7 linked regions of the Homo sapiens genome follow. The protein of the gene in region 2 purifies or fractionates together with the protein of the main gene of each other region. This does not show direct contact. Each region holds a gene or a part of one and is shown on either strand. Other genes may lie near its edges. The genes, in order: ATP2B1, OPALIN, FLVCR1, MROH1, ATP2C1, FIRRM and USP1.

Region 1 (3,500 bases), on a different chromosome or scaffold from region 2:
TGGTTTTATATGCAGCTTAACTAGTTTTTTTTTTTTGGTCACTGTAGAAAATGATGAAAGATAATAACTTAGTAAGGCATCTGGATGCTTGTGAAACCATGGGAAATGCTACAGCTATTTGTTCAGATAAAACAGGAACTTTGACAATGAACAGAATGACAGTCGTTCAAGCTTACATAAATGAAAAACATTATAAAAAGGTTCCTGAACCAGAAGCTATTCCACCAAATATTTTGTCCTATCTTGTAACAGGAATTTCTGTGAATTGTGCTTATACATCAAAAATATTGGTAAGGTTTTTGAAATAATTTATGAAAATTAATTTTTAAATCTATAATGATCAGACTATATGTAAGTCTTCAGACCACCATTACTGTATGTAAACTGAACTGTTAAGTTTTTAAAAGGCATATATTTATTTATATAATGGTTTTTAAATTTGTGTTATGAGTGAGGTCTGCTGATCAACATAAACATTGTTTGCTTACATTTTTCTCCTATATTTTGAATTTCCTGTGTTCAGAAACTCTCCAGCCTTATAACCAGAGCATGTATTTAATTTTAAATTCTTGTTAAGCTCATTTTTGAGAAAGATCAAACTGTCTTACTATAGGAGGTCAGCTCTCAACTTACAGAAAATTTTTAAGCCGATTTCAACTTAAAATAACATGTTTTATATATGGTTGCCATGTGTTCTGTTTGGTTTCTCAGTAGTTCCTACCTAAAAGGTGGTCCTTAGACCTTTTTAGAACTAATGCAGTAAAGTAATTCTAGACTTGTGCCACCATATAATAAAAAATTTTCAACTTACAAGTTTTAAAAATCTTATTTATAACAGAAAGAATGCGATGTTATGTTTGACTTAATCTCTTCTAGTGATTTATGGATGAAAATCATTAACAAAAATAATATTGCAAGCTGTTCATTAGGGAAAACATACATGAATTGGATGATTACATTGGAAAGTTATGGGATCTTGGTTCTAGATCTAGCTTTGCCTTTTACTAGCTGAAAGTCTGAGCTACCTTCTTTAATTACTGAGTAAAGATGATCACATCTGCCCTTAATACCATTGTGATAATTATGTAAAGTGGTATTTCTGAAGGCACTATGAAGGAATTGAAGCTTCTCACTGCATTTAAGAGAACAGTATTTTAATGAATGTACTTTTAAGCCATAAAAATTGGTAGATTTAATTTTGAATGATTTAGTATAAAAGTTAAGTGAAAACAGGAAAAGGAAATTAAAATTAAGTTCCACTCTGTATTAGGAACCAACTATAAACTTCATACATCTTATATCACTTAATTTTGGGGTCATAAGTGCTCCTATTTTACAGATGCTGAAGCCAAGGACCAAAGCAGTTGGGTAATTGTCAAATTTCACGTAGCTAGTAACTGGCAGGACTGAGATTAGAATCCATGTCATTCTCACCCCAGGCTCCTTTCTACCTTACTTTTCTATATCCTTCTTTAAAATGTTGATATTAGACAATTGCTTTGTAATTTTATTTTAGAATATCGCAGTCTGTTTTACATTATAAATTAAACGTTCTTAGAGAAACGAGATACTAGCTACTAAATGTTTTTCTCTTATAGCCACCAGAGAAAGAGGGTGGATTACCTCGTCACGTTGGTAATAAAACTGAATGTGCCTTGTTGGGACTTCTTTTGGATTTAAAACGGGATTATCAGGATGTTAGAAATGAAATACCAGAAGAAGCACTGTACAAAGTCTACACCTTCAATTCTGTTAGGAAGTCCATGAGTACTGTCCTGAAAAATTCAGATGGAAGTTATCGAATATTCAGCAAGGGTGCATCTGAGATAATTCTGAAAAAGTAAGAGTAAAATGCTTGGATGAATAAATTGCTGACTATAGTTGCTTTATGGAGTATCTACTGTGTTGTTATTGTTGTTGTCTTTTTGTGAACATCAGGCATTTGATAGGACCTCAGAGTTTTTTAGCATATTTTATGGTATCCAGATATTTGCCCCTGCTATTCTGCCATTTTCACACTCTAGCTTCTCTTATTTCTTAGCATTTTGTTATAGGGAAAATAAGCTCATTACATTCAATCTGGTATGTTTAATGAAGTATACTTTGATGTTTATTTTTAGAAGTCGATTTACTTGTTATTTAATATGCAGAATCTTGAAAAGCCTCCTGGGAAGAAAATCAAGTTTATGTCTTTCTTTCTTTCTTTTTTTTTTTTTTTTTATTTGTTTAAGGTGGAGTTTCCCTGTATCACCCAGGCTGGAGTGCAGTGGCGCGATCTCAGCTCACTTCACCCTCCGCCCCTGGGTTCAAGGGATTCTCCTGCCTCAGCCTCCCAAGTAACTGGGATTACAGGCACCTGCCACCACGCCTGGCTAATTTTTGTATTTTTAGTAGAGTCAGGGTTTCACCATGTTGGCCAGGCTGGTCTTGAACTCCTGACCTCAAGTAATCTGCCTGTGTCGGCCTCCCAAAGTGCTGGGATTACAGACGTGAGTCACTGCACCTGGCCTCAAGTTTAGATCTTCAACGCTCATTGTGGTTACTGGACTCTGAATGTGATAAGAGAATTATGAAGTAATTTTTAGAATAGCAAAGCATAAAAGCTGGATCTTGGAAATTCCCCATTTATATCAAAATGAGATTTATCATGTTTATGCTGCTGCAGTGTCGTATTTAAATATCTCCTGTCATTTTGAATACTAATTTTTCTTACTGTCCTTTTACAGATCAGTAGCTTTAATTTTGTTATTACATGTTCACATATAATTTCCCTGATGTTTATTTGTTATTAAAGGTGGTGAAATTATTTTAGTTTCTTTAATTTCATTAAAGAAGTAGAGAACTGGTTAAAAAAAAATACTGGTTAAGAGCAAGTTGGGAAAATTGGAACTCATTTGAAATTATAATATTTAAAATATTAAAGTAAATGTTTAAGATATACTTTTAATTTGCTTACATGTGGATTATAAGCCAGTATTAATGAACACTTTACAATTAGTTTAAGAGACAAATATATAAATAAATAACTGAAGGCAGCATATAATAAATTGGTACAAAGTTTTTGGGTGAGAGATCACACTGTAGGGATGTGGCATTTAAGATAGATTTTGGTATGAAATGAGAACTTCGAGGTGGGGAAACCACAGCAGAGGAAAGGAGATGAGAATATGCAGGTCATACTGGGGAGGGGAATATCTGGTTGTATAGTTCAGCTGAATAGTGATGGGCTTTTGTGGCACACAGGCCATATACAGCTTTCTTCTTGCCACAGTACACTCAGTTACCTGATTTCATTGAAAAGGTTAGAAATCTGTTTCAACCCTGGCTTGCTGGGTAGTAGATAGATGGTTTAGGAGAGAATTTTTTTTAGTCAAAACTGATCAGGCATTGACTCTTTCTCTGCAACTAACTAGCTTCTGGATATGGGGCAGATTTTTCCCTTACTTCCATTTTTCTCATCTGAGAAAGCGGGTGATGACCACCAACTCTGTGGCACTTAA
Region 2 (4,288 bases):
CCTTCAGCCTCGGTCTCCCTGACCCCCAGATATTTCCCTGGGCTTGGTCTACACCACAGCTTCCCGTCTTTCCAGCATCCCAAGACCAGATTCTGTCATTGTAGAAACAATGCATTCATTAAGTTTTAAAATTAAATGTTATCCAACAATAGGAAAGTTGTGAAACATTAAAGAATCCAAAAGAATCATGTTTCACACCTGAATTACCTGAAAGATCATCTCTCTCAAAACCCTCATTTTCCAGCAGAGGAAACTGAAACCCAGGGACTTATCAGAAATCACCTCATGGACAAATGAGAACAGTTGGAGCCACATAGACCAGCCAATGGGCCGCAGTCTATGTGACTCAACCCCAACCCGAAAGATGGTAACAGAGGATCTCATCCCAACAGAAGCAAACTGACAAAACACCTATTTCAGCTGACTTACTGATGGATTGGAATTCAGATGGGTTAATGAACAAGAAAATCTTTTGTGAACCAGAAGTGTTTTAAGCACCTAGAATGTGTAAGTCCCCCTAGCTTTTGCCCCAAATATTATGTCCTTCAATCAACGTGGCCCTGCTCAACTAGCACGCTTCAGTGGTGCCTCTGCTCACTTCTCCCCCTCTTGGCAATAGGACACCCGCATTTTATAGAGAATAACCAAGCCTCAAGAATTTGAACAGGTTTCCCAAGTCCAAACAACTACTTAGCTGTCACCAGAACCTGAGTGTCCCGGTGACAACCTCTTTCCACCACTCTGCAAGGCTTCCAAGCAACTCCAGTAGTCTCTGTGGATGAATCAGAGCACCCAGGCTGACAGCACTGTGCACCTCTGCTTCTGGGATGACGGTGGAACACAGGGACGTCTGGGCCTCTTAGGTCAGGGTCCTCTTGCTCAAGGGACCTAACCACTGCTCTTCACGCTAGCACCAGACCAACACGTGCTGCAAGGACACTGGATGGTCGCTGCACTGAATGCAGCTGCCCAGAGCTTTATCTCATCAGTGGGCACTGAGGACTGATGTCAGCAGCCCTAAGACAAAGCTTCCTTTGGGAGGACAGTAGAAGAGGGGGTGCAGCAACAAGTGGGCCATTGCATGTGTTGTTTATCAACATTCGGATGACGGAGATTTTGGCCAATTTCAGAAAGACACTCATATTTTGTAGAAACACAGTACAGTGCTCTCATGGAGAGAAAAACATCGCACAAATTAGGGTGGAGAAGAATCTGATGCAGTGCCCTTCAGAGACACAGCTGAGTGGGATGATGCAACCCTGAGCTTGGAGCCACCTGATCTAAATTCGAGCCCACACTTAGCCACTTAGGAGCTGTGTAGTCTTGGATAAGTCACTCAAACCCTCTGGTCTCCATTTTCTCACAACAAATCTATTCTCCAAGGCTCAGTTTTCCCATTCTCAAAATGGGATACTATTAACTTGCCTTGCCCACTTCACAAGGGAATACCGTAATGTCATCTGTGGCAGCTCCTTTCTCCCAAACTGTAAAACACCCTCTGTGTTTTAGGGATCACGTGGTAGCATATTCTTTATGGCCTGGCCAGCACAGAGCTAAGGATAGGAAAGTTCTTGTGGAATGGAATTGCAAGCATGAGTTAGTGATAGTCAAAGTACTAGAATTGGATACAATGCAATTATTGCTTACTGCTAGTCTGAGCACTATGCAGTATCTACACAATGATTCTGAAGGCATTTTGGGATCTCAGTGGCTGAACGTCCTTCATTATAAGTTTGCAGTTTGTGAGAGGAAGGAGGAAGAGACAGGATAAAAACTTACTGCTGTTGAAGGTGTGCTGGGTATAAGACCCCATACTCACAACCTCCCCATGAAGGGAGCACTATTATTCCTATATTATACCTGTGGAAACTGAGACCAAGATAGGTTTTTGCTCACCAGCTTTTAAGTGGTAGAGATCAGGTTAGATCACAGATCTCCCTAACTCCACAGACTGAGCTCTACTCCTTTTAACAATGCTTTTTGTAAAAAAAAAAAAAAAAAAAAAAAAAAAAAATTCCACAAGAAAGTGAGATTACACAATATTCTTCTTTTTGTGTCTGGCTTATTTCACTTAGCATAATGTTCTCCAGGTCCAAATAGGACAAACATGGCAAATGGCAGGGTCTCCTCCTATTCTAAAGCTAATATTCAGTTGTATATATACATATAAACCACAGTCCCTTTATCCATTCATCCACTGATGGACACCTAGGCTGTTTCCATAATTCTTTAGTAAATCACAGAACCCTCTTGTTTTCTCTTCTAACTTAGCAAACTTCATTTGATTGAGTCACAACAAAATATTTATCACAAGTAAACAAGAAAGATGGAAAATTTCTGATCAATGATGACCATCCATGTTGCTGATGATGGAACAAAAAGCCAGATTAAACAAGTAAGACAGATAAAATCGTTGATTAGATCCATTGCTTCAACTAGAAAGGGAACATAGGTGAAACATCTACTCTGTACTCTTGTATGTGGGGTTTTAAAAACAAACCTTAATACCAAAATGAAAGACAAGATCAGCAAATATTAGGTGAGAAGTTTAAAAAATTATTGGTATTTTGCATATAGGAAAATAATTTAAAATAAAGTCCCTTTACTTCATTGTACATTTAATTGAATTTGGAGGTTTTTTATAGTAAGAAATGAAAGTTCGATTGAGAAGAGATGCCAGCTTTCACTCACCATTTCTGACAGTCTCCCAGGAACCTTCTTCGTACACTGCCTTTGGTAAGCTCCTTTCTCACTGGCTTTATTGGCTTGTGTCTTTCATTTGTAGGAACAGTTAACTGACAAAGCTGCAGAGGCAGGCTGAGAGGTGGCTCCAAGAGAACCCTGGCCAAGCCATTTATGGTCAGGGGAGTAGCCAAGCCCTCAGTCCATCCCTCGGGAAAGATGGGCTGCTGCTGCATGGCCGACGTGTATGGCCTGGTTCACCCACCCTCTTTGCCTTGATTTTCTGTCCTTACTTTTCAGGCTGCTTTCTTGGCTATACCTCCATCTCAGCAAAGAAGCCACAGCTGGCCTGAGAGCTTGGGGGCTTCTGCAGCCTGCAGCCCTTTGGAAACAATGGGTTACATGAGGCTGAGGCTGGCCACTCCATCCCCAGCTGACGGGAGTCCACATTAACCATGTTACTGATAATGATGGAGTCATTGTGTTACATGGACAACAGCATGGACATTCGGGATGTCTGGAGGAGGGGTGGGGGCCCATTCTGTTGCAGGAGTCACACTGCTGGGGGCTCCAGCTGCTGCAAGGTGCTGCACTCAGTGGCCAATGAGCTGCCTGGTGTGAGTTCAGCCTCACCCCCTCTCTGTTTTTGTATTTTGGGTGGGAAGCTCTCTAGACCTGGAGGAAGCCATGGACTTGGGCTGCTTTATAACTTACAATTTCCCTGTTAGGGATTTGCCTCTTTAAAATGGTGAATGAGTTGCTAATAAAACAACAGAATTAAACCAATAATTTGGCCATTGAAATGAAAACCACTGTGAGAGGAGCAGATAGGAGTGTAAGGAGAGAGCGACTCAAGTGACAGAGGAGGCCGTTGTTTAGATGACTCTGGGAGATGGCACTGAAGCTGTGCGTGAAAGATGAGAAGAGGGCAGACATGTGAAGGGTTGAGGGAGGAGAGTCCCAGGCAGAAGCCACAGCAAATGCTAAGCCCTGTAAGCTTGGTGCACTCCCAGAGCAGGCAGGAGGCCGGTTGGCTGGAACAACATAAACCAGGGAGTCACCCGGGAAGGGGCTAAGGACGGAGTGAGTTTGAGCCCTTTTGATGTGACATGGGAGGGCATGGTAAGATTTTCATCCTTAGATGAAACCTTTTCCAAGGGTTTTTCAGTGGGAGAGATGCATGATGTAATTGCTGGTGACGAGGATTGCTAGGGCTTCTCTGTGGAGCCAAGATTACAGGGGAAGAGAGTGGAAGCAGGTGGCTGGCTAGTGGAGTCCAGGTGAGCGATGAAGGTGGCTGCTGTAGGAAGACAGCAGTGAATGATTGTGCTCTCTACTGTGGAGGTGGAGCCACTGGGATTAAATGATGAAAAAAATATGGGGCGGGGAAGGGCGAGGTGAGGGAAAGAGAAGAATAAAGCCAACTCCTGGGTTTGAGGCTTGACTAACAAAAATGGAGATGCTATTAGCTTAGGCAGGTAATACTGGAGAAACAGATTGCCCTTACACCTGAGTAGCCTAGGGGCTGTCCAAGTGTGGGTGCCAAGTAGGCGACTGGATAAAGGGGATCTGGGGCTGAAGACATCCGTTTGGGAGTGGCCGGCCT
Region 3 (3,589 bases), on a different chromosome or scaffold from region 2:
GGGGCTGAGCACTCTCACTATGCTATCACCTTCTCCCATGGGAGAAATTGTGGACTGAGGGGAGTCTCTCTTGCCACTAAGCTGTGCCAACTTCAAAGAGTGATGCAGATAAAGTGAAAATCTTCTTCTTCCTTTTCTTTAATGCATTTATTCTCAGATATTTCTGCTCCAATGGTGTGCTGGAACTTCCACGTAGGACTTCTGGATTCCTACAAAAGAACTACCATCTGAAAGTACTGGTAAAAATCAATGCTTCTGTGGAAGAATGATGATATAAAGCTCCTATTCTGCCATCTTGCTAACATCACTCTCTAAAGTTACTTTTAAAGGAATAAAATATTTTAGTATCTATTTTAGCCCTGACCCTGGTAGACTTTGTTTCCTCATTTTATGTTCCATGCACTACCTCATTCCCTCTTTGCCCATTCTGAAATTTTATAATCCCTTTAAACTCCCCATGTGTACCTAAGCATCAGAATTTTTCAAAAAGTCACAGAAAATTAACATAAAAAAATAAATTTATTTTGAGTCTGAAATACTGAAGAACAAGCATACAGATAAATAGTACAAAGAACAAAAATTAGAACATGAGTAATGACTTAAGACACAGGCATTTTTCTAGCTATTGCATACAGACACATTTTTACACACAAACATATTTTTTAAAGACATCTCTCCAACATTCTCAAAAGGCAAGAGCTGTATTTGTGACATTTGTAATAAATGCAACAGCTTTTGAAACATCCAGTTTCTTTCCTAAGTCATTTGATTAAAATTCACACAAGTGATGATTACCTATTCCATTTTCTGAAAATACGACATACAGTCATGTTTCGATCAACAATTGACCACATATGACAGAGATCCTATAAGATTATAATGGAACTGAAAAATTCCTATCACCTAGTGATGCCACAGCCATTGTTACATTGTAGCACAATGTATTATCTGTTCTATGTTTAGATTACACAGATACCATTGTGTTACAGTTGCCTACAGTATTCAATACAGTACCATGCTGTACAGGTCTGTAGCCCAGAAGCGACAGACTTTGCCATCTAGCCCAGGTGTGCAGTAGGCTCTACCACCTAGGTTTGTGTAAGTACACTTCATGATGTTCACACAATGATGAAATCACCTAATGACAAATTTCTCAGAATGTAGCTCTGTCATGAAGTCACACATTACTGTAGAATTATAACATTCTTGCTTGACATATTACAGACAACTTTCACTCAAAATACAGAAAAATTATCAATTCATTTTGCATTGTCACATATTCCATCACCTTTCTAATCAACAAGGAAAAATAAACATAACATATATGTATATGCTTTTCAGAAATAAAGTATTCTAAATTTTATGTGTAATTTGTTCCAAACCTCAGGAACTCAACAAGTACATGATTATTTTAAACAACATTGATAGTTTAAAAATAAAAACATTTGGGGAGAGACCTTAAAATATATTTTTGGCCGTTTTTACCTGTAATGTAAATATCAAAGGAAGCTAATGATTGGACATACTCTGCTTGAGTTACCCTCAACTGACTAAAAAGGCTAAAAAGAAATGTAAAAGTCCGTTGTATCCATAAGGTAGCAATCACATTTGTTTATCCAATTGTCCAGGGAATTTTTCTCTGGCTGGATTCAAGTTCCTGTGATACAATAATTTGGTCTATTCCATGATTAATGGCATTTAATATTTTGGAAAGATCTTTGAGATCAAATTGAACACATTCATTTCATGGATGAGGAAAACGCTGCCCAGAGAGGTTTAATGATTTGTCCAGAGTTATAGGAACATACAGAAATACATCCAGGACATGGACACAGAGTTCCTGATTCTTAGTCAAATTCTTTAGATAACACATTCCCCAGGGTCAGATTCGACATAATTTACAGTCACTTGATTATAGAGAATGTTATAATTTCAATATATATCAATGCATATATTCTGCCTGATATAGTTGGGATACTTGTCCCTCCAATCTCACATTGAAATGTAATCCCCAATGTTGAAGGTTGGCCCTAATAGAAGGTGTTTGGGTCCTGCGGGTGGATCCCTCATGGCTTGGTGCTGTCCTTGCAGTAATGAGTGAGTTTTCACAAAATCTGGTTGTTTGAAGGTGTGTGGCACCTCCCTGCTCTCTTGCTCCTGCTTCGCCATGTGACATCTCTGCTCCCACTTAGCCTTTCACCATGAGTAAAGCTCCCTGAGGGCTCCCCAGAAGCCGAGCAGACACTGGTGCCATGCTTACACAGCCTGCAGAACTGTGAGCCACTTAAACCTCTTTTATTTATAAATTACCCAGTCTCAGGTATTTCTGTTCTTTTTTTCCTGAAACAGAGTCTCGCTCTGTCACCCAGGCTGGAGTGCAGTGGCGCAATCTCAGCTCACTGTAGCCTCCGCCTTCCAGGTTCAGGCAATTCTCATGCCTCAGCTTCCCAAGAAGCTGGGACTACAGGCGTGTGCCACCATGCCCGGCTAATTTGTGTGTGTGTGTGTGTGTGTATGTATTTTTAGTAGAGATGGGGTTTTGCCATGTTGGCCAGACTGGTCTTCAACTCCTGGCCTCAAATGATCCACCCACCTCAGCCTCCCAAAGTGCTGGGACTATAGGTGTGAGCCATCGTGCTCAACCTCAGGTTTTATTTATTTATTTATTTATTTATTTATTTATTTATTTATTTATTTGAGACAGTCTCACTTTATCTCCCAGGCTGGAGTGCAGTAGTGTGATTTTCGCTCACTGCAACCTCTGCCATTCGCATTCAAGCGATTCTCCTGCCTCAGCCTCCTGAGTAGCTGGGATTACAGGCGCCTGCCACTGCGCTAATTTTTGTATTTTTAGTAGAGATGGGGTTTCACCATCTTGGCCAGGCTGGTTTTGAACTCCTGACTTTGTGATCCACCTGCCTTGGCCTCCCAAAGTGCTGAGATTACAGGCATGAGCCACAGCACTGCGCCTGGCCTTTTTTTTTTTTTTTTTTTTTTTTTTTTTTTTTAGTAGAGATGGGGTTTTACCATGTTGGCCAGGCTGGTCTTGAACTCCTGACCTCAGGTGATCCACACGCTTCAGCCTCCCAAAGTGCTGGGATTACAGGCGTGAGCCACCACGCCCAGCCTAAATATTTCTTTATAGCAATGCAAGGATGGCCTAACACACTGCCTAAATCAAAATTGCTATTCACTTCAAGGGTATTCATTACCTGACTAGCTTTTTTGGGTGCATATGAACATAATGTAAATTTTATGGCTGATCAAATGTCATTACTATGAAGATACTCCCTATGAGCTCACAGAGTCAGGACATCAACAATATTTAAACTCTCACTGTAAACATGACACAGTGGTAGGCACTGTGGAAATATATTTGGTCCTATTTTCCCTACCTGAGCATGTAAAAGAGCAGACTATTCTAACAGTGTGATGACTCTGCAGTGAAGAAAAGAATCCACTCTCCCGGCACACTGATAGAGCATGTACCTGGGCATAGTATTCCTCAAAGGAGAATGGTCATAAAAATGATACTGCAGAATTCAAATAGCATTCAAGAGGTCTCCACTAAATGGGGACATGTAGGCTA
Region 4 (3,500 bases), on a different chromosome or scaffold from region 2:
CACCGCCCCGCTCCTGCAGCAGGCAGTTGATCATGACGGTAGCTGCTCGGGAGCAGTTCTTTTCGGGGTCTCCCAGGGCCTCAAACATGGTTAGCAAGAGGCTGATGAGCTGGTCTGGGGGGAGGCGCTTGGCAATAATCTAGGAGGAAGGCGATGCCAGAGGTTGAGGGAAGGGGGGCACCCCCAACGCCACTTCTGTTAGGCATCGGGTCTCAGGGGCTCGCGTTAGGGCGGGAAGCCACACCCCTTCTTGCAGCCGGGCCCCAGCCGCTGGGCCCTGCGCCTTCAATGAGCTCGCTGCACGGGGGTGGGGTCTCCTTCTCCGGAACCTGCCAGGGCCTGCTGGAACCTGGGCGGGCTCCTGGAAGGTGGTGCCTGGGCAGCTGCAGGGCTGGGGTCACAGTACCCTCCCTCAGGCTCCTTCTGACCAGTGAAGTGGGCTGGGAGCAGCCCTGTGGTGCAGTCGCCCTGGAGCTCTCTAGAACACGGGGTCAAGGGCAGGTGAGCCTTAGCTCACACCTGTGATCCCAGCACCAGAAAAGGCCCTGGTGACCTACCCCTCCTTCCTCTGCAGGAGACACAGTCTCTGGACCTGGAAGGCCATTCCTAAGCACCAAATGGAGACAGGCCGTGTTCCAGCTTGGGGACCCACATGAGAGCACGGAGGGAGGGGCAGCTTTCTCATCCCCTTGGAAGGACTCTTTTTTTCCCCCCCGTAATGCAATACTTTAATAATACTCAAGCTTGTGTTGTGAGCTGAGCCTCAGAGTAGACCAGGCAGGCATGGGTCGGGGAGGGGACGCGGTGCCCAGGGTCATCCTCCCTTCAGATGGCAGTAGACAAAGCACCTTGACCAGCTGGAACCAAGGGCAGGCCCCTTGGCAAGAGGGCTAGAGCCCGCTGCACCCTGCAGGCGATGACCCTAGCCCCCCACGTGGCTCTTGGGTAGCCTCTGGGGACAACACCACACAGGGCAGCCGCTGAAGATTCTGTTCCAGAAACCTGCATCTTCATGAGCAGGCCAGGGTATCAGTGGCAGACAGAGGGCGGCTGTGCCTCATGGCACCCCATTCTCTCCTTGGCCTCTGCCAGGTCTCAAGACAAATAGCACCTTCCTCTCATATGGACTGCACTGCCCCAGCGTAGGCGGGTGTGGGTGATGGGGCCAGCGCAGGGCAGCGCCGGCAACTAATGCAAACACCCAGGCCCTGCTCATGCCCACTGGCCATGGGTGGCACTTCCAGAGGCTAGGGGAGGCCAGGTGCCACCTCGGAAGTCCCTGTTAGCCCCAGACAGTGCCAGCCTGCCTTCCGGCCGCAGAGCTCCCAGCTGGTACCTGGCCTACACTGTGGCAGGTGTGGAAGAGAATGGCGGGGTCAGGGTGCACGAGGCCGTCCTTGAGGCTGAGGAGCCGCTCCGCCACGTCATCGCGGTAGTCCCGGGAGAAGCCTGAGAGGCGGCAGGAATGAGCAGTCGGGCCCAGGCCCTCCCTGGCGATCCCACAGCCTGGACTCCGCACCTCATCCCTCCAAGCACCCCTGCACGACCACTGGCCCCCACACTCCTGACGAGGGCTCACCCTCATAGCCGAGCTGGAGGTACAGCAGGGAGTAGACACAGTCCACGGCCTCCTGGCGGGTGGCAGGCCACAGGTCCGCACACCGTGGGGAGAAGAGGCCGATGAGAAGGCCCAGGTTGTGGAAGGGCACCAGGGCCTGGAGGAGGAGATGCCTGGGCTATTAGAATGCTGGGGGTGGGTGGATGCCACCTATGCCACCTGTACCCAGAGGAGGGCTGGAGTGTGGCCAGGAGTGCTGCTGGTGTCCACGAAGCCCTGGGCCCTCAGTGTGGCCAACACAGCTCCCAGTGAGTTCCTCCCTCCCCTCCTGCTGCAGCGTGGGCGCTGCTCAGCTCAGCTCTGACCACACCTCGTCTACACCAGGGCCACACAGGCTCCCAGGCCGGGCCCCTACAAGAAGGAGGGCCAGGCCATGCCGACGTGGGCACGCAGGCGTGTGCAGGCAGACGGACAACTGGGGTGAGGAGGGGGCCCCAAATGGGAGGAGTGCACGGGCTCTGCCAATTTGGGTGAGGGGCAGGACTGTACAAGACCCCCTCACACCCTGACTGTCCTGGTCCTGCCTTCCAGAGCCTTTCTGCTCTCCTCAGTCCTGCTCCTCCCATGCTCCTATAGGCAGACAGCTTCCTCCTACTTCCACACCTCCTCCCTGGCAGACGCACCTGTCCCCCTCCCACCACCTGCTCCCTTTTCAGCCCCCACGTGCGAGGCCTTCCTGGGAGGTGCTCCCACCCTACCCTTGCACAGGATCCTGGGCTCAGATGGAAACCTGGTATCTACTTGGGCGCCACTGATGAGAAAGAATTTCAAGTCAGAAGGGAAAGGCTGGAATGTTAGAGAAAGACTGCAGGGTGACCAGCCATTGTTCTTAGACTGGGCATCCATCACATCATGCACCAAGGTAAGCTTCAGCCAGACCAGGGTTATGTGATGAACAGGCCATGAAAGTATGAGGTGGGAAGAGCCCTGAACACACGAGATTTGACCACATAAAGAATGAAAGTTTCGGCAGGGCGCGGTGGCTCATGCCTGTAATCCCAGCACTTTGGGAGGCTGAGGTGGGCAGATCACTTGAGGTCAGGAGTTCAAGACCAGTCTGGGAATTCAAGACCAGTTCAAGGCCAACAGGATGAAACCCCATCTCTACTAAAAATACAAAAATTAGCCGGCAGTGGTGGTGGGCGCCTGTAATCCCAGCTACTCGGGAGGCTGGGGCAGGAGAATCGCTTGAACCCAGGAGGCGGAGGTTGCTGTGAGCCAAGATTGCGCCACTGCACTCCAGCCTGGGTGAGAGCGAGAGACTCGGTCTCAGAAAGGAAAGAAAGGAAAGAAAGGAAGGAAGGAAAGGAAGGAAAGGAAGGAAAGGAAGGAGGAAGGGAGGGAGGGAGGGGAGGAAGGGAGGGAGGTGAGGGAGGGAGGGAAAGAAAAAAAAGAAAAGATAGTTTTGGTGCATTAACAAAAGGCCAGGTGCAGTGGCTCCCATCTGTAACCCCAGCATCTGTCATCCCAGCACTTTAGGAGGCCGAGACAGGAGGATCACTTGAGCCCAAGAGTTCAAGACCAGCCTGGGCAATGTAGCAAGACCCATCTCTACAAAAAATAAAAGAAAATCAGCTGGGTGTGGTGGCATGCACCTGTAGTCTCAGCTACTCGGGAGGCCAAGGCGGGAGGATCACTTGAGCCCAGGAGTTCCAGGCTGCAGTGAGCTGTGTTTGCACCATTGCACTCCAGCCTGGGCAACAGAGTGAGACCCTGTCTCAGGGAAAAAAAGAGAGAGAAAAGAAAGCCTAGAATAATCCTGACAGATGATAAAAAGATATTTAGCAAAATCTAATACCTGTTCCTGATAAAAGTTCTCATTAAAACAAATAGATGCTTCTGGAACATGATAAAAATATCGCCAACCAAATCAAGCACCGCG
Region 5 (3,500 bases), on a different chromosome or scaffold from region 2:
GGTTGAAGTTTTTTCCATTCTGCTTGGTATTTAGTGAATCCTTTCAATCTATAAAGACTTACTTTTTGCCTTAGCTTGAGAAAATACTTGTGTGTCATATCTTATGTAATTTTTGAAACTCCAATTAGTTACAAGTGGTATTTCCTGAAATTATTCCTCTTCATCATTTTATCTCATTCTAAGACTTTTTACTCTTTTTGGGGGGAGACCTCTTTGAATTTATATTACACCCCTACAATTGAATTTTTAATTTCAACAATCATAATCTTAATTTCTAAAAACTCTTTTTGTTCTCTGATCCTTTTCTACAACAATTTATCTCATGGATGCAGTTTCTTCACAAGTCTCTGAAAATACAAACACTTGGTTTTTAAATTTGTCATCATTTCTTCAATGTTTCGTTTTCCTCTGAAATTGATTATTCAATTTCTATATTGTGAACTTTCTCTTTCATGTTGCTAGTTTTCAATTTGACAATCCTTAATTGTATATTTATATATAAAAAGGCAATAATGCATTAGTAATTCCAGACATCTAGTATGGGTTTTCTTCATTACCATATACATACATTTTCATTTTTCTAAGGATAATTTTAATATATGACTTCTGAACTATTTATGTAGCGATGTTATACTCTTATGGGCTCCATGTAATACTGATCTCCATAATAAAACGTAAGCTATGTCCATTAGAGAAATAAAAGAGGCAAAAGAGACTCCAATTATAAAGTATTGAGACTTACCTTACACTAATAGTAAACATTTCCAGGATATCTTTTCCCAGTAACCAGCCAACCAACATGATGATTCCTGAAAGATAATTAAATAGTTATTTTTCCCTTTTACATACAATCACCTAGAAGGAACAGAACAAGCTGAAGGAATCTAAAACGTCCCTTGACAAAAAAGGGAAAGCATATCAGATCACAATTAGAAGATTTTATAAAAATCCATTAAACAGGGGAGGTTAAAGTTAACACTGCTTAATGTGAATGCTGTGCATACTCACATACGTACATGTGTGCACACACACACCACACATGCACACACACACACAGTTTTACTTTTGGTTGACACTGCTCCTACCATCCCTTAAAGCAGTAATATTTTATTATTTTTTTAAAAATTACCAGTATGTTCATACAATGAAAAAAAGAAGGTGGCAGCAAACATATAGGTCTTCTATTTAATATCAAATATGCAAAATTAAACCCTAAAACTTTATTTTCCATAACACAATATCCAGACACTTCTCAGCAAATCCATACTACACACAAAGGGACACTTACGACTTGGCTCAAAAAGTGATGTGCCTTACGTTAAGCACCTACAACTGCATTAACATCTAAAAATCACTACTTTTATGGCATTTCAAAAATTTAAAAATCAATTAAACCAATACTCCTTGCTTTAACCTTTTATCTTTGAAAAGAATAGGGGGAAAGGGGCGCACAAGCAGGTTTGTGAGGAAAAAGCAAACAGATTCACGAGAGGTTTGATAAAATAAGCTATCTCAAGACTGCAAATCAATATGAACATTTAAGACAAGTTTTTTTTTTCATCTTTATATAACTAAAGAATAATTATCCAAATAGCAACCTTCTAAGATCCTATCCCAAATACTATCATGATGAAAGAAATTATGTCCAAAGGATTATACCAGGGGTCAGCAAACTATAATCTGTGGGTCTCCTGTCTGCTTAGGTAAATGAAATTTGTTGGAACATAGCCACACTCATTTATTTACATATTTTCTATGATTGCTTTCATGCTAATGGCAAAGTAAAGTATTTCCAACAGAGACCATATGGACTAAAATATTTACTATCTAGTTCTTTACAAAAAACAAAAAAAAACAATTGCTGACCCCTGATCTAGCTCTTGACCTTGGCAAGAAAAATTATGTCCAATGTAATATACTAACATATAACCAGAGATCGTAAAGTTGAAACATATTTATTACTAAATTTGAAATGGTTTATGGTATAGTGCTAATAGAAACTACAAAGATTTAATTGGCTAGAATGTCATTCGATCTATCAAATTCACTATAAAATTTCTAGAAAATGAGCAATAATCAAACGGAAGAAGTTATGAGGGCATACACACCAGTAAAACAAAAATAACTAAGATAACTTCCTACCTTCTACTTTATGTTTACAATGAAGATAGATGGATAAACAGAATTACTATTTACAAAGTTATTTCAACTAATATTGTATTAACAGAAATATTGCTTTAAAATTGCATTAGTCCTGTAATCCCTGCACTTTGGGAGGCTGAGGTGGGCAATCACATGAGTTCAGGAGTTTGAGACCAGCCTGGCCAATGTGGTAAAATCCCGTCCCTATTAAAAATACAATAAAAAAATTAGCCAGGTGTGGTGGTGCACACCTGTAATCCCAGCTACTCGGGAGGCTGAGGCAGGGAAATCACTTGAACCCCAGGAGGTGGAGGTTACAGTCAGCCGGGATTGCGCCATTGCACTTCAGCCTGAGCAACAAGAATGAGACTCCATCTCAAATAAAAAAATTGTATTACTGACTTTGAAATACTAAACTAGCTGGAATAATTAACACGGTAAGAAAATTAAAGGAGAAAAGACTCCAAAATTAATGCAAGTGCTTAATGTGTGATAAAAACGTGACTTCAATCCAATGAATAAAGACTGGATTACAGAATTAATGGGATAATTAACTTGAGTAAAAAAGTTAAAACTCTGCCTTAAGCCATGTACTAAAATAAATTTTAAATAAAATAGTAAAATGTCAAAAATAAAAAACTATACAACAATGTTTTAATAAATGTTCTTATAAACATGAGGTTGGGAAAATCTTTAGGAACAGAACAAAACCAACTTAATTGCAGAGATTATCAATAGGAGGGTGATAACAGAATCTCAAGGAAAAGGGGATGTTTTAACCCATTTGTGTCTGAGGTTGCAATTTTTTGAATTTTTGCAACCAGACCTTGGCAATGACCTTGAGCAGTAGGATATAAATAAGTCCCACATGCTTAGCATTCCAATAATGGAACACTAGGCATAAATGGTTAATTACATATATTGTCCTCTTACCAAGTTTATTCCACATGCCTCAAAGGCAACTTAAACGGGAAAAAAAAACTTATACAACAAAAAGATTGATAATCTAGTCATATAAAAAGCTTTTATCAATCTAAGACTCAAGACACAAGAAAAGGGACAAAAGAAATCGTTGGCAGGTCATAAAATGAAATAAAAATGATCAACCCACACATGACAAAGCATTCGGTTTCCCTAATAATGAACTGTGAAATCAAATAATGAGAACTCTTTTATTTACAGTTGAAGTTAATGACAATACTTAAAGCTGGCCAAAAATTTAAAAGTTACATGGATCCCCTTTGACTAAATAATTTTATTTCTAAGAATTTTTCCTTAAAAAAGAGAGGTATTTACCAGAAGACACCACACTAAAGAAGTATTTATATGACCAAAAAAAAACCCTCAAAAAATCCTAA
Region 6 (3,500 bases), on a different chromosome or scaffold from region 2:
TGATAAAATCAATGAAGTGTGTTACGACCAGCAATTCTTTAAAAATAAACTAGTATTGGCTGGGCACGGTGGCTCATGCCTGTAATCCCAGCACTTTGGGAGGCTGAGGCAGGTGGATTACCTGAGGTCAGGAGTTCAAGACCAGCCTGGCCAACACGGTGAAACCCTGTCTCTACTAAAAATACAAAAATTAGCCAGGTGTGGTGGCGGACGCCTATAATCCCAGCTACTCATGAGGCTGAGGCAGGAGAATCGCTTGAGTCCGGGAGGCGAGGTTGCAGTGAGCCGAGATTGTGCCACTGCACTCCAGCCTGGGCTACACAGTGAGACTCTGTCTCAAAAAAATAAAATAAAATAAAAATAAACTAGTATAAAGTGCATCACATGTAAAATGAGTTATTTCATTATAATATGTATATGAGAATAGACATATTTACATACACATATGCACGTATTTATATGTATTCTGGAAGGAAATATAAACTGCATCTCAATATCAGTTATGGTTAAAAAAATGTGAAAGTTATTGTCTCTGAATATGGACAACCTCAGAGATTATAAAGTTATATAAGTTAATCATTGTGGAGAAATTACAGTAACTAAATACGCAAATCTAGGTTAAGGTACCCAAAATAAATTTTACAAATTCCAAATTTCAAGATTAAAAATTTATTTGGTAAGATTTAAATCAATTTTAATGCATAATTAGTAAGAAAATAACATGAATCATTAGAGACAATTTTAATTGATACATGATTTATAGTCACCATATACTAAGCAGAAAGTTTTCTTCACTCACCTATTACCATATTCAAAATATCATCATTGTCATCTACTAAAGGGTCCATGCAAACCATGTCCAGCAGTTCCATTAACTGCTTTTGAAGAGAATAGGCCTCCTTGAAAAGAGCCTGGAGAAGGTCTGAAACTAGGTGTAAACACCCAGAATACACAGATTCACTATTCTGATTACGGATAAATAAAAATGAGAGAAAAAACAAATCAAAGCTCAAGAGCCAAATTTACTTTAATTCATACTATTAGAGATCATAAATTTACTGAATCACATATTCATTCATTGTTTAGTGAACATCCATTAAATATAGTGTGCTTCAAGAGATGCAAGCATGTATAAAATATTATTTCTGACTTCCATGATCTTGCAAATACAGAACTAAAAAAGGGTAACATTAGGCCAGGTGCGTGACATTTTTAGCATCCTATCAGCAAAGAGAGGTATTAATTAACTAGTGATTTTCATTCGCCCAACAAATAGCAATATTAAAACTGTCTGTGACCCATAAATTCTAGGCAAGCTTTTGTGCCTCAAGGCTACCTCTGGCATGTAGAGATGGACTAAATAAGGATTAACTTTCCTTTATAAAAGGAAGTTCTGACATCTAATCATAATGGTAATTGAATATTGGTCAATGCAACATGACATAACTATTTCAGGATCCCTGTGTCTGTCTCAACACAAATTCTTAAAACTTCTTTCTTTATAGAGGGGAAATAAGATAAAACTAAAAAACCCCAAAAAGCCACTTTTAATGACTTCCTTAAAACCACTTTTTTTGCAACAATTATTTACTTACATGTTCTTTATTCTATGGAAAAGTTTATTTCAATAATATAGACTAAAATGTAAAATCTTATACAAACATTATTTTACTCAGCCCCTATGCACATTGATTATATACCATTCAAAGTATAATTAGACCTTTACTCACCTTACAATGCACAAATGTGCTTTTAATTATATGAAGGACTGAGGAGGGGAGACTCTGAATATTTTCCAAAATGATGGATTCCTGTGTGGCACAGATATGCTGAACACATCCTGTGAGAGCTCCTAAGAGCTGCACCATTGTCTGTGAATAAGGAAGGAAATTTCACTTAGAATATATTTTTTGTGCACTGAAAAGGTATTAGTCAGCATGCTGGGTGCTACAAATACAGCAATGAACAAAACACAGTCTCTTCCTCTTTTCACAGAACTTTAGTCTATCAGAACTACAAATACTGGAACAACTGTCTAGCCATTTAGAATACTAACACAAACTTCAAAACACATGGCAGGTGTTCCACACATATCCTTGAAAATACAGGTAGGGTCAGCTAGCTTGATGACTTCTCTTCTTATAAGAGTTTATTATTCAGAATTCATGTTTCTATATTCACGTCTTTAATTCTATAAATTTAATTCCAACATTAGGCCATTACATAAGAATACATAGCTAATCAGTATCAGTATAAAAATTTTGACATTCTTTAAGCTCCCTCTCTCTCCTGCTTTCTAATACATTTGACTTACTTGTAAAATATTCCTTAGAGTGGTCTGGATTTCCAAATTTTGGCTTGACAGTCCTCTGGCTTGACTGGTTAATTCATACATCATGTCATCGAATAATTTCACAGTCTGTAAAAACAAATCAAGTAATAAACAGGAATAAGAGAAATCACTAGAAAAGACAAGACAAAACTTTACAGAGAAAACACAATACGATAATTTGATTTTGCACTAGTAACATCCACAGGCTATCATCTAGCTTAACAATTGTACCTAATTAAGCACAAAATACAGAGAAAAGGTATTTTTACAACATAATCCCCCCAAAAGCCCCAAACAGAAATTTATTTTCCATTTCTATGGTTTGAATCTATTTAATAGCATCAATTTTTTTAAAAAATCACTCAAAGTTCATGTTTTAGAGATGCAAAAAATAAAAGTATTACTTTCGCACAATAAATTTGACTGTCTTGAAGAATCCACATTCATACAGTCATTTACAAGGGTATTTTCTGGAAGGAATTTGCACTGAATCGCCTATTCACTACTCACTTATTTTCTAACCAGTTTCCTTTTGACCCAATTCAAGCTAACCTTCCTGAATTAAGGGTATAGTAAATGACCTTACAAACAAGCTTTTTGTCTGTGAAAAGTTAGCCACCCTAGATCTTAATACTTGGATCTTTCTAACAATTTAAATGACCTAAACATTATAAGAATAGCAACACAGTCAACAATACAATGTAGCTAAAGAAAATACTGTTTCCCATAGGCCTGTTAACACTCAACATCCATTTTCATCTATGTAACAGTTGAATCTTTTTCTGGTGGTCAAGAACAAATTCTAAGAAATATTTCAGATAGAGAATCATCAAGTGACTATGAGTACAAGAAATTTGAAAGATTACGATTCAAAGCTAAAGTTAGAAACCCATTTCAATAAGAGATTAATTACAAATAATGTTTCATTTTGGCACCAAAGTATCTTTAGTTCCCTCCATTTAAAACAAAAAAGGTATGCTTGTGCTTTTCAGAGAAAACATATACCATATATATCTAAAATGTAATAATGTATTCTGTGAATTTAATGTTTTCTCTTAGTTACTTGATTTTGCCAATATTCCAGCTTTTCTTTTTTTTTTTTTTTTTTTTGAATTAAGGGTTTCACTCTGTCACCCAGGCTGGAGTACAGTGGCTTTAAAATACAAGA
Region 7 (3,500 bases), on a different chromosome or scaffold from region 2:
ATATGAATGACTATAAAAAGCCTCATATAATATGTTCAGATCTAACGAATTTAGCACCAAATTTATGAAAAAAATTTCCAGTATTCAGAGTCTCTGGGATATAAAGGACTGTGGACCTAGAGTTTCTACTTTCCTTGCCCTTTATTCCTGTTTCTTCGCATGTCATTCTCCTCCAAGGATATAAACAAGTAGCTAAATTGAAACCCTAAAATTATATTATAGGCTATACCTCAGTGTGTTAAGCAGTCGCCTTGGCTGAGTGGCAAGTTCATCAGTATATTTCTCTGGATTTAAGAGAAAACTAGCCTGGAGCTGTTCAACCGAAATGATTAAGGACTGTAAACTGCATATCAATTCATAACTTGCCAAAGAATCTTCTTTGCAATTTCCCTGTCAAGAAAGAAACACACAAACCAATAATTTTATGAACAAATTAAGTACCTTCCCCCTTTGTCTTTGTCTCACTTAAGAATACTAGATTTTCTAAGTTGCATAATAGCACTAATTTTAAGGGATGTACAAATAAGCCTTATTTTTTATTTTTTTATTTTGAGACAGGGTCTCTGTCGCCCAGGCTGGAGTGCAGTGGCTTGATCGCGGCTCACTGGAGCCTCAACCTCCTGGGCTCAAGCAATCCTCCACCTCAGCCTCCCAATTAGCTGGAACTACAGGCTCACACCATGACGCCCTACTAGTTTTTGTATTTTTAGTAAAGACAGGGTCTTGCCATGTTACCCAGGCTGGTCTCAAACTCTTGCGCTCAAGCAATCCACCACCCACCTTGACCTCCCAAACTGCTGGGATTACAGGCATGAGCCACCACGTCTGGTCTTTTTTGTAATTTTAAGAGGAATTATGAATTACTATTTATGTGAATTACAATGGTTTTTTAATTATGGAAGTTAAAGATTTCTTTAAATACACTGTATTTAAATTTTAACTCAATTTGAAAACACAATGGGTAAATAAGTTGTACATGGGTATAACATATTGTGATTATAGTATACAGTAATATATAGTATACAAGTAACAAAAGTTTGATACACAGATTACAGGAGCAAACATTGTAAAAGGGAATTATCTAGTTAGCCACCTTGAAAGAATGAAAAATAATTGCCTGACAATAGCTCGCTAACAGAGAAATAATCTTTGTCATCCACCCCCCCAGTCCTCTTCATTTCCAGGCAAGTAAATTTCCATTAATTTACTTTTGCTTTTTACATTATTTTCTGTTCTTTATTTTTCTTACCTTGTCTTTTTGATTGGCTTCATCCTTTAGAGCTTCTTTCTTCCTTGAAATAATATTAAATAAGTGCTTTACTCCAGATTTAAAACCGGGACAAAAATATAATACCTATAAAAAGTGAGATTGTCTTAAGTGTTTACTGAACAAACAATACACGTAAAATCATTAAAACAACATCATGCTTTCTATAGAGCACTTTTAACATGTATTACCCTAAAATTCTGAGATTAAGTTTTGTGTCAAAATTTGTTCTCCACTTCATCAGTAGTAGCCCAGTGTCTTCCCTCATTAGCACAAAGCACTGCACCTGGGCAGATATTGCTAAGACTTTAAGGTTACAAGGACACACAACACAGCGCCAACGGACACACAACACAATGCCAACGTTACTTCCAAGGGATAAGACATATATCACACTGTAGCACCAGGAATCAGAGAAAGAAATTAAAGGTTTGACCTTCCACTTAAGGTCTACTCAATTTTGCTATCCCACCTTTATTTAGTCTATCATTTTCTCTTACCCCAAAGGAAGTTTAATAACATGTAACTTATTATTTTAGCCTATTCTGGTTTATTAACAATCAAAGGCAAAGACAGTATGGACATTAAAGTCCTCCAATAACTCAAAAACATTAAATGCTACATCAATCTTTGCCTACTAAAGCTTTATGATATAGCAAAATTGTCAATTTACCTGAAGTATACTATTAAGATAGCAAGTATTGCCGAGATTATTCAGTCCCACAAATGGTAACAAGTTTTCTCTCTTCTCACAGTTTATAGGTGAAGACTGTGCTGCAGGAACAACTTGATCACTATGAAATATAGAAGGGAGAACGATAAGTAGTTATCTTAAAGAAACAAGGTGAAAATATTACTTCTGTAGATTTAGTCTTTTCCCAAAAGTTGTATAATCTGAAAAGTATGTGAATCTTGTTCAGATGACATTTTAAGAAATACAGGCTCAAAAATTGCTATATGCCCAGAATAAAAGTTTTAAAAGCATTTAAAAACATTATTACACATAACAAGCCACAGAACAATTCCCTTAAAAGGATGTTAATCCTATTTTACAGAGTAGAAAATTGAGGAACTGAGAGACTATGATTTGTTTCATCTACTTTGACATTTTAATCAAATAGTTTAACTGAACAGAAACCTGGGAATAAACTAACCATGACAATATTTGGGAGAGGCTGCACTAAGTAAGATTCTATTAATAAGAATTCAGAGGAAAGAAAGTCTGTGAAGAGAATTATATATGACTTCCTGCTGGTAAAAAAAAAAAAAATATGTAGCTATCCCTCACTTAAAAATAAAATGTTCAGAATGTGGGTGTGGGGGCATTGACATGTAATTCCAGCTACTTGGGAGGACTGCTCGAGCCCAGGAATTCAAGACCAGCCTGGGCAACACAAGGAGACCCCATCTCAAAACACAAATGCTTTAAGTTTACTATTCTTTTACTTCTTTAACAACAACAACAAAAAAACCACTAGGTCCTTCCAATATTTTCATTTATTTTACGATTGCTAGCTATTATTACTCTAGCACCTCAAAGTATTCAGAAGTATGAATGCTGATAAACAAAAGCTTCACTCTCACAAATCTCCTCAACTGGTTATTGATAGCTATTAGGAAATTAACACATGGGACCAAATCCACCTTAGTCACCCAGCAGAGTGCCTATATGTTAAACAGGGAGTAGTACAGACTCCAGCTAGAGCTGCTGGTGGTGGAATAAAGTATTCCACTTTGTTCTGATTTATTTTCTGTAGCTAAATAATTTATTTGCATCAAAAGCATTACTTAAAGTTTATTTTTATAATTTGCAATCATATGCCTCCAACAGGTATGACTAGTTACATGACTAGAGTTTAAAATGTCTTATAACTGTCAAGTCTTCTGAACCAAACAAATATATATATATATATATATAAAACCTTTTACCCCTACACAGATGTTTTGCACTACAAATAATCAAATTTAAACTCAGAAAGACAATTTTAGTCAACAAATATTTCTCCAAGTTAGTCTAAATGGCTGAGCACAGTGTTAACATGAGTTAAACATTATCGATGTGATTCCTACGGGGAACCACCAGTTTTGCTGTTCCTACTATAAACTGCTAGATTTGACTAAGAAGTACACTGAAGCGTACTTTTTTGTGCCGCTACAGACTATCAAGTCAGACTGGAGTTGTCAACCAAGTTCACTGCTGCTTTACTGTAGAATTTTTAAAGTACAGAAATGT

What was found.
Region 1: the proteins of OPALIN (region 2) and ATP2B1 purify together in Homo sapiens (co-immunoprecipitation; 2 studies listed by BioGRID and IntAct, with this or other methods). This does not show direct contact.
Region 3: the proteins of OPALIN (region 2) and FLVCR1 purify together in Homo sapiens (co-immunoprecipitation; 2 studies listed by BioGRID and IntAct, with this or other methods). This does not show direct contact.
Region 4: the proteins of OPALIN (region 2) and MROH1 purify together in Homo sapiens (co-immunoprecipitation; 2 studies listed by BioGRID and IntAct, with this or other methods). This does not show direct contact.
Region 5: the proteins of OPALIN (region 2) and ATP2C1 purify together in Homo sapiens (co-immunoprecipitation; 2 studies listed by BioGRID and IntAct, with this or other methods). This does not show direct contact.
Region 6: the proteins of OPALIN (region 2) and FIRRM purify together in Homo sapiens (co-immunoprecipitation; 2 studies listed by BioGRID and IntAct, with this or other methods). This does not show direct contact.
Region 7: the proteins of OPALIN (region 2) and USP1 purify together in Homo sapiens (co-immunoprecipitation; 2 studies listed by BioGRID and IntAct, with this or other methods). This does not show direct contact.

The regions. Positions count from the first base shown.
Region 1 is NC_000012.12:89,618,339-89,621,838, reverse strand, and holds part of ATP2B1 (plasma membrane calcium-transporting ATPase 1), read left to right. Parts: intron 1-47; coding exon 48-290; intron 291-1,598; coding exon 1,599-1,840; intron 1,841-3,500. UniProt on the Homo sapiens protein: Catalyzes the hydrolysis of ATP coupled with the transport of calcium from the cytoplasm to the extracellular space thereby maintaining intracellular calcium homeostasis.
Region 2 is NC_000010.11:96,356,203-96,360,490, forward strand, and holds the start of OPALIN (opalin), read right to left. Parts: upstream 2,801-4,288; 5' UTR 2,695-2,800; coding exon 2,692-2,694; intron 958-2,691; exon of another isoform or gene 708-957; intron 1-707. UniProt on the Homo sapiens protein: Central nervous system-specific myelin protein that increase myelin genes expression during oligodendrocyte differentiation. Promotes oligodendrocyte terminal differentiation.
Region 3 is NC_000001.11:212,896,275-212,899,863, reverse strand, and holds the end of FLVCR1 (choline/ethanolamine transporter FLVCR1), read right to left. Parts: 3' UTR 501-3,589; downstream 1-500.
Region 4 is NC_000008.11:144,245,516-144,249,015, reverse strand, and holds part of MROH1 (maestro heat-like repeat-containing protein family member 1), read right to left. Parts: intron 1,716-3,500; coding exon 1,580-1,715; intron 1,450-1,579; coding exon 1,337-1,449; intron 858-1,336; coding exon of another isoform or gene 739-857; intron 479-738; coding exon of another isoform or gene 286-478; exon of another isoform or gene 170-285; intron 140-169; coding exon 1-139. UniProt on the Homo sapiens protein: Lysosome fission factor. Recruited to lysosomes by RAB7 (RAB7A or RAB7B) at scission sites and homooligomerizes to mediate the constriction and scission of lysosomal tubules. May sever membranes by inserting amphipathic helices into one bilayer leaflet.
Region 5 is NC_000003.12:130,956,584-130,960,083, reverse strand, and holds part of ATP2C1 (calcium-transporting ATPase type 2C member 1), read right to left. Parts: intron 810-3,500; coding exon 743-809; intron 1-742. UniProt on the Homo sapiens protein: ATP-driven pump that supplies the Golgi apparatus with Ca(2+) and Mn(2+) ions, both essential cofactors for processing and trafficking of newly synthesized proteins in the secretory pathway.
Region 6 is NC_000001.11:169,801,540-169,805,039, reverse strand, and holds part of FIRRM (FIGNL1-interacting regulator of recombination and mitosis), read right to left. Parts: intron 2,420-3,500; coding exon 2,315-2,419; intron 1,872-2,314; coding exon 1,731-1,871; intron 966-1,730; coding exon 800-965; coding exon of another isoform or gene 792-799; exon of another isoform or gene 654-791; intron 1-653. UniProt on the Homo sapiens protein: Regulates PLK1 kinase activity at kinetochores and promotes faithful chromosome segregation in prometaphase by bridging kinase and phosphatase activities.
Region 7 is NC_000001.11:62,440,049-62,443,548, reverse strand, and holds part of USP1 (ubiquitin carboxyl-terminal hydrolase 1), read right to left. Parts: intron 2,062-3,500; coding exon 1,941-2,061; intron 1,355-1,940; coding exon 1,250-1,354; intron 391-1,249; coding exon 230-390; intron 1-229. UniProt on the Homo sapiens protein: Negative regulator of DNA damage repair which specifically deubiquitinates monoubiquitinated FANCD2. Also involved in PCNA-mediated translesion synthesis (TLS) by deubiquitinating monoubiquitinated PCNA.